2 separate regions of the Homo sapiens genome follow, and region 2 is linked to region 1. Evidence: fine-mapped QTL for protein levels in blood plasma. A gene starts in region 1. The other region holds a variant in brackets. All regions are shown on one strand. Distances are between the middles of the regions. Region 1 holds the start of NID2 (nidogen 2). Region 2 overlaps NID2 (nidogen 2).

Evidence for each region. PIP is the posterior inclusion probability: the model's chance that the variant is causal. The UK Biobank Pharma Proteomics Project read protein levels with antibody pairs (Olink). The fine-mapping took linkage between variants from a reference panel, not from the people measured, so its PIPs are less certain.
Region 2: its variant is fine-mapped to the plasma level of the NID2 protein (UK Biobank, PIP above 0.99).

Annotation. Positions count from the first base shown.
Region 1 is chr14:52,066,176-52,071,550 of GRCh38, reverse strand. NID2 (nidogen 2) reads left to right here and starts at 2,492. Exons shown (of 22, transcript NM_007361.4): 1 at 2,492-2,784; 2 at 3,388-3,693. The coding sequence starts at 2,557. LOC105378180 (a long non-coding RNA gene) reads right to left here and starts at 2,315. Exons shown (of 2, transcript XR_943864.4): 1 at 44-2,315.
Region 2 is chr14:52,041,502-52,046,829 of GRCh38, reverse strand. NID2 (nidogen 2) reads left to right here. Exons shown (of 22, transcript NM_007361.4): 6 at 3,899-4,048; 7 at 4,480-4,725. Among named protein-coding and RNA genes, the nearest start is that of NID2, 25 kb to the left of the region's middle. The variant A/G (reference allele first, on the strand shown) is at 5,008.

The DNA of each region.
Region 1 (5,375 bases):
TTGACCAAGAAATTGACCTTTTACTGTAGGTAAAAGGACTTACCTGTGAGGATGTTGTATTGGAGAATTAAAGTCTCAGCTTCAGGTGAGACTTCAGGGTGGCTGTGACGGGAGATAAAGTTAGAGACATAAACTAGAGCTACTTTCCAAAGGGCCTTGCTGCAATATAATTTAGTGGTTAGGAGTGGAGGTTTAGAGATCAGACAGAATTGGGTTCAAATCTCAGCTTTGGTACTTACCAGCCATGTGATAATAACTGATTTTTTTAAAATCCCATCTGAGCTTTAGTTTCCTTAACACAACGACTACCTGTTATCAGTTGTCTATTGCTGCATAACAAATTATCCCAAAATGTAATAGCTTAAAGCAACACACAGCTTCTTCAGCTTCTGAAGCTGAAGCTGTAATTCTCAGTTTTGGTTGGTCTGGAATCCCACCAAAACTATAATTATAATCTAACCAAAACTATAATTCTCAGTTTTGGTGGGTCTGGAATCTGCACCTGGCTTAGCTGGGTCCTCTGCTTCAGGGTCTCTTGCAAGGCTGCAATCAAATGTCAGCCAGCGCTGAGATACCATCTCAAGACCCAACTGGGGAAGGATCCGTTTCCAAGCTCACTGACATGGTTGTTGGCAGAATTCAGTTCCTTGCTGACTGTTGGCCAGAGGCTGCCCTCCTCAGTTCCTTGCTATGTGGGCCTCCCCGACATAACAGCTTGCTTCATCAAAATCAATGAGAGGGAAAGTCAACTAACAAGGAAGAAGCCACAATCTTATTTAGCCTTCTTCTCATCACTCTTGCCACACTATGTTTGTTAGAAATCACAAGGCCAGTCCACACTCCCAGGGCAGAGATTATACAGGGGAATGAACACCAGGAAATGGGGATCATTGGAGACCATCTCAGTGTTTGCTTGCCCCAAAGCTCATAGCTTAGTACCACTAAATAAATGTTAGTTATTATTATTATGCTGAATCGAGAGATAAAGTAAAACTACAGAGGGCCAGTAGTTTTATATCAGGGAGTAACTTCAGATGATGTTGGGCAAGTCAAGTCATCTGTCTTTGAACTTTCATTTCATCCTCAGTAAAATAAAAATACCTGACCCCAGAAAGAATGAGAAAATATATGTGCAAGCATAAATATATTTTTGGAACATCAAATATACAACTCTCCACTCTGAGGAAGCAAACTGCTTTGGGCCAGTTTTCCATTTTGTGTCTGCTCTATGAGTCTCACAGTCTGATGTCTTCACGTTTTTTAGCGTTTGGTCCAGTGGGCCCATAGGAATAAACACCTACAAAGAGCAGTGTGTCTCTGGAGAGTCCTTTAAGGCATTTCCAAGGATTTGCTTTTTGGTTTTTTTCTTTCTTTCGTTCTTTTTAAATATCTTTGCTTTTAAGGACCTCATGGGGGGCCTGGGAGAGAAAACAGACTGTCTGGGAAATTTTAAGCTCTTGATAATAAAAATGGTAATAAAATCTCCTCCAGCTCCTGAGGCTTCGCAGAGGGGATGTTTATGGTGGATGGGGTTCCCCTTCTCCTGCGCAGCTGGTTTCGAGGTTGTGCGGTTTCCAGTCCTGCGGAGCAGCTCAGGTTACCGCCTCCGTGGCCGCGGGGGAGGGCATCTCCGACGGCCGCAGCAATGGGCAAGAGATCAGGGTCTTCCCATCCCCGCGACTCGCCCCTTTCTGCCTGGTAACCAAGCGGGATGCCTCATCCTACTCCCCAAACGGAGCGGATCACACACAGTAGTATTTCATGGTCTTTCCTGCTGCGGTTTTCCCGGGGGAAGGTACTTCCAGAGGGTGGCCAAGTCTTCCCTAGCGGCCGGCCTTCGGGAGGGGGACAGAACTTAGGAGTCAGCCCTCTGCCTTCGTACAAAGGCTCGCTTCTCCTCAGGGCGTCTCTGGGTGGAGCGAAGCGGCCGAGGGGACCACGACAATGTCCCTTTGCTTTTCGGACCGATGGCCAGGCCTCCAGAGCCAGGAGCGCCCGGGACCCCAGGGCAGGGAGCAAAGCTCATACCGCAACCCCGCCACCCGCCCGCGCCCTGCCAGCCTGTTGGGGCCACAGCGCGCAGGCCAGCAGCCGCACTCGCCGCTGCGGGGTTCCCTTTGCGCTGAGCTCATCTCCTGCAACGCCGCTGCCCCAAACCTTGCGGGCCATTTGGTCCCGGGGGTGGGGCTCCTTGGGGGCCGCGGGGCAGCCCGGATGAGAGGATGACCCGGGAGCTCCCTGGGGGCGGAGTGGAAGGGGCAGCTCCAGGCAGCCCTGGCCAGGAGCTTTTACCCCGCCAGCCCCGCTGCTCCAGCGGCCGCTGCCTTAGAAAAGTTAACGAGAACCAGATGTGGTGGCCACTGCCGAACTTTCTCAGAGCCGGTGATTGGTCCCCAGCCGAGGGCCTCAGCCAATTAGCTTGCTGGGTGGGCCTGGAGTCCCGCCCCGCCCAGGCGCCCGCGGAGATCCAGGTTCGAGGCTGGCGCGGCGCGGAGAGTGGGCTGGAGGCCGGGGCGGGACGCGTTGTGCAGCGGGTAAGCGCACGGCCGAGCGAGCATGGAGGGGGACCGGGTGGCCGGGCGGCCGGTGCTGTCGTCGTTACCAGTGCTACTGCTGCTGCCGTTGCTAATGTTGCGGGCCGCGGCGCTGCACCCAGACGAGCTCTTCCCACACGGGGAGTCGTGGGGGGACCAGCTCCTGCAGGAAGGCGACGACGAAAGCTCAGCCGTGGTGAAGCTGGCGAATCCCCTGCACTTCTACGAAGCCCGATTCAGCAACCTCTACGTAAGTTCAGCCCCCTCCTGGCACTTTTCCCGCAGCTTCTTCCCTGGGGTCGGTCTCACGGAAACCCTGCCTCCAGAGGGGAGGAAACAGACCCCACTCCTGGAGCCCCCCAGCACCCTTGCGGTGGTACCCGGCCAGAGAGCGATGCCGCTGCCTGCCCCGCTGCTGTAGGGGAGCAAGAATGACCTGGAGGGGAGAGCAAGAATTGTTCGCAGCCACGTACGCGTCCCAGGCAGAAAAGGTGGCGTTGCTAGGGCGGCCAGCGGGCTTTGCAGTTAGGACCGCGAGAAGGCTGTGCCCGTCTGCGGAGCTGGGGTGTTCCCTCTTCAGACCTGGAGGCTTCCTCTCCGAGGACATGGGGCTCCGGGGTTGTGAGGGGAGTGAGAAGATAGGTGAACGAGTTTTAGGGCCCCTGGACCTACTGCAGCGCGGAGCTGGGACAGTCGCAAAAGTTGCGCTTGTTTCCCTGAATCCAGACTCCCTGGCCAGTGGGGAAGGAGAGAGAGGCTTTTTGCCTAAGTCAGTTCCCTTCCCTCCCTGCGCGAAAGGGTAGCGTCCTTGGGCTTGAGCGACTGTCACCTTTTTGTCCCTCTCCTCTCCCAGGTGGGCACCAACGGCATCATCTCCACTCAGGACTTCCCCAGGGAAACGCAGTATGTGGACTATGATTTCCCCACCGACTTCCCGGCCATCGCCCCTTTTCTGGCGGACATCGACACGAGCCACGGCAGAGGCCGAGTCCTGTACCGAGAGGACACCTCCCCCGCAGTGCTGGGCCTGGCCGCCCGCTATGTGCGCGCTGGCTTCCCGCGCTCTGCGCGCTTTACCCCCACCCACGCCTTCCTGGCCACCTGGGAGCAGGTAGGCGCTTACGAGGAGGTCAAGCGCGGGGCGCTGCCCTCGGGAGAGGTAAGTGACCAGGGATATTTGACTGCTGAGGAAATTGAAGGATGGGCTTAAATTCTGGGGCAGCGACCCAGGGACTGGCTCGGAGTTGTTTCTGAGCCTACTCTTGCGCTGAACCTGACCTTGGAGGCAGCAGGGCTGGAGTGGCTTGGGAGTGAGGAAAGACGTTGTCTCTAGGCATCTTCTGAGGCCCTGGCAGGTGGTCACTCCCTTGAGGAAAAAAATGCTTAGCGGATATGAGAGCGGGAGTGCAGATGTGGGAGCCCCTTTGAACATAAGGCAATTTACTGTTTGGTTGCTTATTTTTAGAACCATCTCTAAGTATACAAGTATTTCTAATTATATGTTCATTGAAGGGGAAAAAATCAGAAAATACAGATAATTTTAAAAAAGAAAACAACCACTCATTTTCCCACCACTGATAAACATTTTTCTGCGTACATTTTCAGAGTTTTTTCTTCTGCATATCTTTATTGCTGTCTATTAACAATGATGAGTTTACACTGCACATACTGTTTTATAACTTGCTTTTTTCACAGAATAGTGTATTGTAAATATGTTTCAATGTCAATAAATGTATTTCTACATCATTTATAATGATGCATACTACTGTATCCTGCTATTATCCTGTATAATAGTGGGTGTACCACAGTATGCTCAACCAGTGTTGGGCCATTAAGGCTTTTTCTGGTTTTTCATTATTATAAATAATAGCGTGAATCACTTTTTAAAAAGCTAAATCTTTGCACATGTTCTTAGTTGACATTCCAGGAAGTGCAATTGGTAGGTCAGAGAGGATGCACTTTTGATAAAGTTCTTGATAACTTCTGCCTAATTGCCTTCCAGGTACCAGTTTACAAGTTTCTTAGTTTATAGGAGTCTGCCGTCAATGTGCTTTACAGTCTCTACCTGCGGAAAGTAAAAAATTCCAGGCTCCTGGTCTTTAGTCTTGTCATCAACATTTGAAGTCCTCCAAATGGATATGAGTGGGGCCAGCGTGCTTGGTAAATGGCAAACTGCCTCATTCCTGAAGAAAGTAAGGGCTTCCTTCTATGGAATTAGACCTGAATCTAAAATACCATACTCTAGGGGCTGAAACCATATGATTCATCTCAATTTTAACTTACGGAAATGCTTCTTCACTATAGAAGGATGGTACATGCCCCCTGTAAGAGGTGAGGTTGCTTGCCCATGTCACTGATCTCTATCTTGTAAGGATGCTGTGACTTATATCTTTTGTATGGGGACTCTTTATTTTTTAATTTTTGAGGGTACATAGTAGGTGTATATATTTATGGGGTACATGGGATGTTTTGGTACAGGCATGCAATACGTAATAATCACATCTTGGAGAATGGGGTATCCATCCCCCCAAGCATTTATCCTTTGTATTACACACAATCTAATTACACTCTTAGTTATTTAAAAATGTACAATTAAGTTATTATTGACTATAATAACCTGTTATCACAGGTTATAGTCACCCTGTTGTGCTATCAAATGGTAGGTCTTATTCATTCCTTCTATTTTTTTTTTTTTGGTACCCGTTAACTGTGTCCACCTTCCCCTGACCCCTACTACCCTTCCCAGCCTCTGGTAACCATCCTGTTACTCTCTATGTTGCATAAGGACTCTTTAAATGCAAGGTTTTTGGAATTAAAACTTTTGTCTGGTCCTTTTCTGGG
Region 2 (5,328 bases), 25 kb after region 1:
TCAGTAAGTACCATCCTAAAAATACAATATTCCACAAAACTGTTTAAAAAGACTCCCAGGTTAGCTTAACAGTAACTAGTTAGCCCATTGTAATTACAGTTTAAGTCTCATAATAGCCTTTCATGGGAGCCTGCTCATTGTTATAACTTCTTTTTCTGTAATAGAAAAATGTAGTACAGCTTCCAATCTATTTATAAACCTTTGCACAGTTGCACTTGTAAGTTGCTGGCTGCATCGCCCTGCCTCTTTTTACTTAGATAAAAGCTATGACTCCACCTAGTTTAACTCTCCATATCTAGACTGTCTCTCCTCCATCTTCTCTCTCCTTGTTTCATAATTCAGCCTCAGAATAAGAATTGGGTTGCAGAATAAGGCTTCACAAAATAACTGAAATAAGATACAATCCAAGCCTGTTATTTCCTTAATTTGTGGGCAGAACAGCTTGTAAAGTTTGGATTGATTTTTATCTGAATATTATGAAAACGGCTTTTTTTTTTTTTTTTTTTTGAGATGGAGTCTCTCTCTGTCGCCCAGGCTGGAGTGCAGTGGTGCGATCTCGGCTCACTGCAAGCTCCGCCTGCCAGATTCACGCCATTCTCCTGCCTCAGCCTCCCGAGTAGCTGGGACTACAGGCGCCCACCACCACGCCTGGCTAATTTTTTGTATTTTTAGTAGAGACGGGGTTTCACCGTGTTAGCCAGGATGGTCTCAGTCTCCTGACCTCGTGATCCGCCTGCCTCGGCCTCCCAAAGTGCTGGGATTACAGGTGTGAGCTGCCGGGCCCAGCCAAATGGCTGTTCTTTAGACCTATAGCAGATTGCCTTTTTACTTGGTGTTCAGAAGTACATTAAGAAGAAATGCGACTTCTGGCAATGCAGGGGTGAGGAAGAGGTGTTCTACTTATTTTAGAGATGAGGAAGCTGAAAGACAGTTTGCATAGTTTCCACAAAGCCCCCGAGGGAGGGCTGAGGTTGAGTCCTAGAGCTTGGCGCTTTCTGCAGCCCCTCATTCCTTGAGCTCTGGGAGAAAGTCCTGATGGCCCTTAAGCCATGAGCACACTGGTGAGTGTGTGAGTCCCTCCTGTAGCTGCTTCCTTACACTTAGTTGTGAATTTCTGAGCTGGAGAAACCTGAGATTTTGACACATCCAAGTTACATTCATTTCCTTTTACTCTAAATGTTTTTTTCCCTTTCTTAAACTAATAGACAGTGATACAGTTTTCTTCACAGCCATCTATTTTACCATGATCCATCCTGGGTTTTTTTTTTTTTTTTTTCTGCCTTGAGTTTTATATCACTTTTCTGTTTAAGTTAAGCTTGTCACTTTCTTGTTTAAATAAAGTTGAGTCATGCCTAATTTTCTATTTTTATCAAACTGGAATTTCTTAGCCAAGTCATCAAGGCCCTATACTAAATCTTGAGTCATAACTTCATTCCTACTATGTTCTAATCAGATTTTCCACTTGAACCTACACTGTCTGTCCTGCCAACCCTCAGCTTGCTGCTTTCCCAAGGATCTGCAGGCAGCACTCCAGTACTGTTCAAAAGCTAATGCCGCTGCTGCTACTCTCATTTCTTACCTGTGCTGTTTTTCAACATGCTGTAATAGTCATCTCGATAATCTTCCCTGCTTGCTTCTACCATTAAACCCAGTTTATAAAGTATGACTCGAATTATACTTGAAGTCTGTGCTGATTAACCCCAGACATGTGGTGACCCCTAATCTAGTGCTCATGATCTCCGTACTTGGATCCCATTGAAGGGGTCGTGGAGAGTAGCAGTTAAGATTCTCCAGCTAGATGTCCTAGGTTCGGTTCCCACCTTTGCCACTCACTGCCTATGCGACTTCAGGTGCTTTAGTCTACTGTGCCTCAGCTTTATCTGCAAACGGGTTAAAAAATTGTCCCTGGCCAGAGTGGTGGCTCATACCTGTAATCCCAGCATTTTGGGAGGCCTAGGTGGGAAGATCACTTGAGCCCAGGAGTTCGAGACCGAGACCAACCTGGGCAACGCAGGGAGACCCCTCCCCCCAACCCACCCTACCAAAAAATAAAGTAGGCAGGTGTGATGCATGCTTGTGGCTGCGGCTACTCAAAAGGCTGAAATAGGAGGATCACTTGAGCCTGGGAAGTCGAGCTTTCAGTGAGCCGAGATGGCACCACTGCTCTCCAGCTTGGGTGACAGAGCAAAACCCTGTCTCAACAACAGCAACAAAAAAAAGTCCCTGCTACCTAGGGTTGTTGTGCAAATTAAGAGTTGTTGGCCGGGCGGGGTGGCTCACGCCTGTTATCCCAGCACTTTGGGAGGCCGAGGCAGGTGGATCACGAGGTCAGGAGATCAGGACCATCCTGGCTAACATGGTGAAACCCTGTCTCTACTAAAAAATACAAAAAATTAGTCAGGCGTGGTGGTGGGTGCCTGTAGTCCCAGCTACTCAGGAGGCTGAGGCAAGAGAATGGCGTGAACCTGGGAGGTGGAGCTTGCAGTGAGCTGTGATCGTGCCACTGCACTCCAGCCTGGGCGACAGAGCGAGACTCCGTTTCAAAAAAAAAAAAAAAAAAAAAGGTTGTTAAATGTAAAGCTTGTATATGTTAAGCGCGATTGAAGTGTTAACTTTGTTATATTTTTATTTGCTGATGGAGGTCTTTATCTTGGTGACATTGTACCTATAATGCTATGTCTCATTAGCTCCTTTACTTTCTGTTCTCCCTGGGAATACTGGGTAAAGATTGATCTTTGGATTTCTTCCTCCCCTCCTGTCTCCTCGTTTCCAGATAGACCTGGAACACAACTACCACTTGGTTTTTCCTAAGAGTAGGGTGGGTGTCCTCCTTCATGCCAGCATCCGTGTCTCACACTAGAATTCCATGCCATCCCTGCTCAACAGCATGCTCCTGGAGTCTCCAGCCAACTCCACCTCCTGGGGATGTGGAGGCAGAGGTGTGTGCAGCCGCTTGGCCTCCTGGTGGCCATGCTTGGGATTGGCATATTTCCTAGTGCCCCGGAGAAAGCACCCTCCTGTCCATCCACAACCCCCGCCACACCCTACCCCCTTGGCTATTTCCTTTATGAACTATGGCATTTGCTCCAGTTTCCCCATTTCTTTGCAGCACAGATGGCCCTCTTCTTTTAATGGGCAGAATAAGTAGGAAATGGAAGAAACAGCTGCCAGAGCACTGAATTTATCCTAGTCCTCCATAATTTCTTGGAAGATCTGCGAGTGGGGCCCAAGCTGTCTGCTACTGCGTGGAAATCATGCTTGTACCATACCCATCATAGTTAAACCCTGCCAAGGGCATAGGGCATTTTAATAGCTTGAATCCCTGTTGTTTTGCCCTCCTCTGTCCCCTTCTCCCCATGCCTTTTCTTTGAGGTAGGTGCGTGTGTTCTTTAAGACCCTTCCCTCAAAACAATCTTGGTAGCGAGACCAGCTATTATCTTTTTTAAGTTCAGTGTTCCCTAAAAGAAGGATGGTTAGACATAAGACATTTGTTAGCTTCTCTATTATGTCTTCCTCTCAGGATGTGTTTAGGTTGAACCATATAAAAGTGCTGATATTTAGCCCTTTTTGACCCACAAAAATAGTGGTTTCATGAAGTTCAACCTAACATGTACTTACTGGTTTGCTTTCATTTTACTGCACTCAAACCCACGGGTGCAGTCTCATCTTAGTTCACCAACTCTGCAATGGGACCCAGCCGGGAGCAGTAAGCAATTCTTCTTGCCAGCAGACAAAGCAGATTAATTCCCTTGGGTTGAATGTTATGCCGGTCTCTTAAACATCAAAAACTGTTTGTTATGATCTAAACTGCTTCTATGGAGCAGATGTTGTGTCCCCGATGCAGCAGTGACATTGGAATCATTTAGTCCTTTTAAGGCAAGTTTGTTTTATTTTTCAGTCTTCACGTATAATGCTGCCAACAAGGAAACCTGTGAACACAACCACAGACAATGCTCCCGGCATGCCTTCTGCACGGACTATGCCACTGGCTTCTGCTGCCACTGCCAATCCAAGTTTTATGGAAATGGGAAGCACTGTCTGCCTGAAGGTAATTGACTGGGGCCAGGAACTCCTGTGTGTCTATTCCTGCTGCTTACCTGTTTCCAGCTACCACTGTGAGCTCTGCTTTATGGACCAAACATCTCCACTACTTAAATCAGAGTGCTATCAACTTGCAGGTGCTCAATAAATGTGTGAGGAATGAACTGGTTTGGGCTGATTCCCAATTTGAGGATTATCCAGAAATGCTTCCTTCTGCCAGCTCATTAGAGCCAAAGTGTAGTGGAGTAGAAGGAGGAGGGGAGAAAACAGACTGGAGGCAGGACTGTTTCATAGATGGATAATTGGTTGGTTAGGAAATCATTAAAGTGACTTGCTAAAGAGTGAGTTTTGGAAGTTGTCAGTGGAATAATTATACCTGGGTACACCCATCTCTAGCCAGGATGACGTCCAAGCCTAACTGGATTTGCTGTCTTTTAGGGGCACCTCACCGAGTGAATGGGAAAGTGAGTGGCCACCTCCACGTGGGCCATACACCCGTGCACTTCACTGATGTGGACCTGCATGCGTATATCGTGGGCAATGATGGCAGAGCCTACACGGCCATCAGCCACATCCCACAGCCAGCAGCCCAGGCCCTCCTCCCCCTCACACCAATTGGAGGCCTGTTTGGCTGGCTCTTTGCTTTAGAAAAACCTGGCTCTGAGAACGGCTTCAGCCTCGCAGGTGAGTAGGGCCTCTGAGAAGGCCGGTAGTCAGCATTGCTTTGGCAGTGGTGCTCCTTGGGGCACTGTCTTTAGGCCTTTACGCAGTGACAGAGGAATCACTTGTTTAATGTACTAGAGCCACATGTGTGTAGTTTTCTGGCCACAGGTTGTTGGGAATGGTTTGACCTCACATCACTGATTTTTGAAAGGCAGTGATTTCGTCTAAATGTTCTCCCAGCTGTTCTGAGAAACAGGATGATTCCATTCAGAACATTTGTGTCCTCTTACCCCAATTTGTTGC[A/G]GCATATTTGTCAGGCTTTTTAAATTATGCACAGATCTGTCAAATGCAAAAATGGTACTTGGGGCACCTGGGGATGATTTTACTTCATGGGGAAGGGGTGCTCTTCTCCTCCCAGCTCCACAACCTATAATAGTATAGGCCGGTGCACCCCAGACTTGAACCTGCACACACATCACTTGGAGGTCTTGTCAAAATGTAAATTCTGGTTCAGCAGGCCTGGGGTGGGGTCCGTGATTTTGCTTTTCTACCAAGCTAGGAGGTGAGGTACCAGTGTTGCTGGAAAGGCCACCCGTTGACAACAAGGATTTAGAAGATACTTTT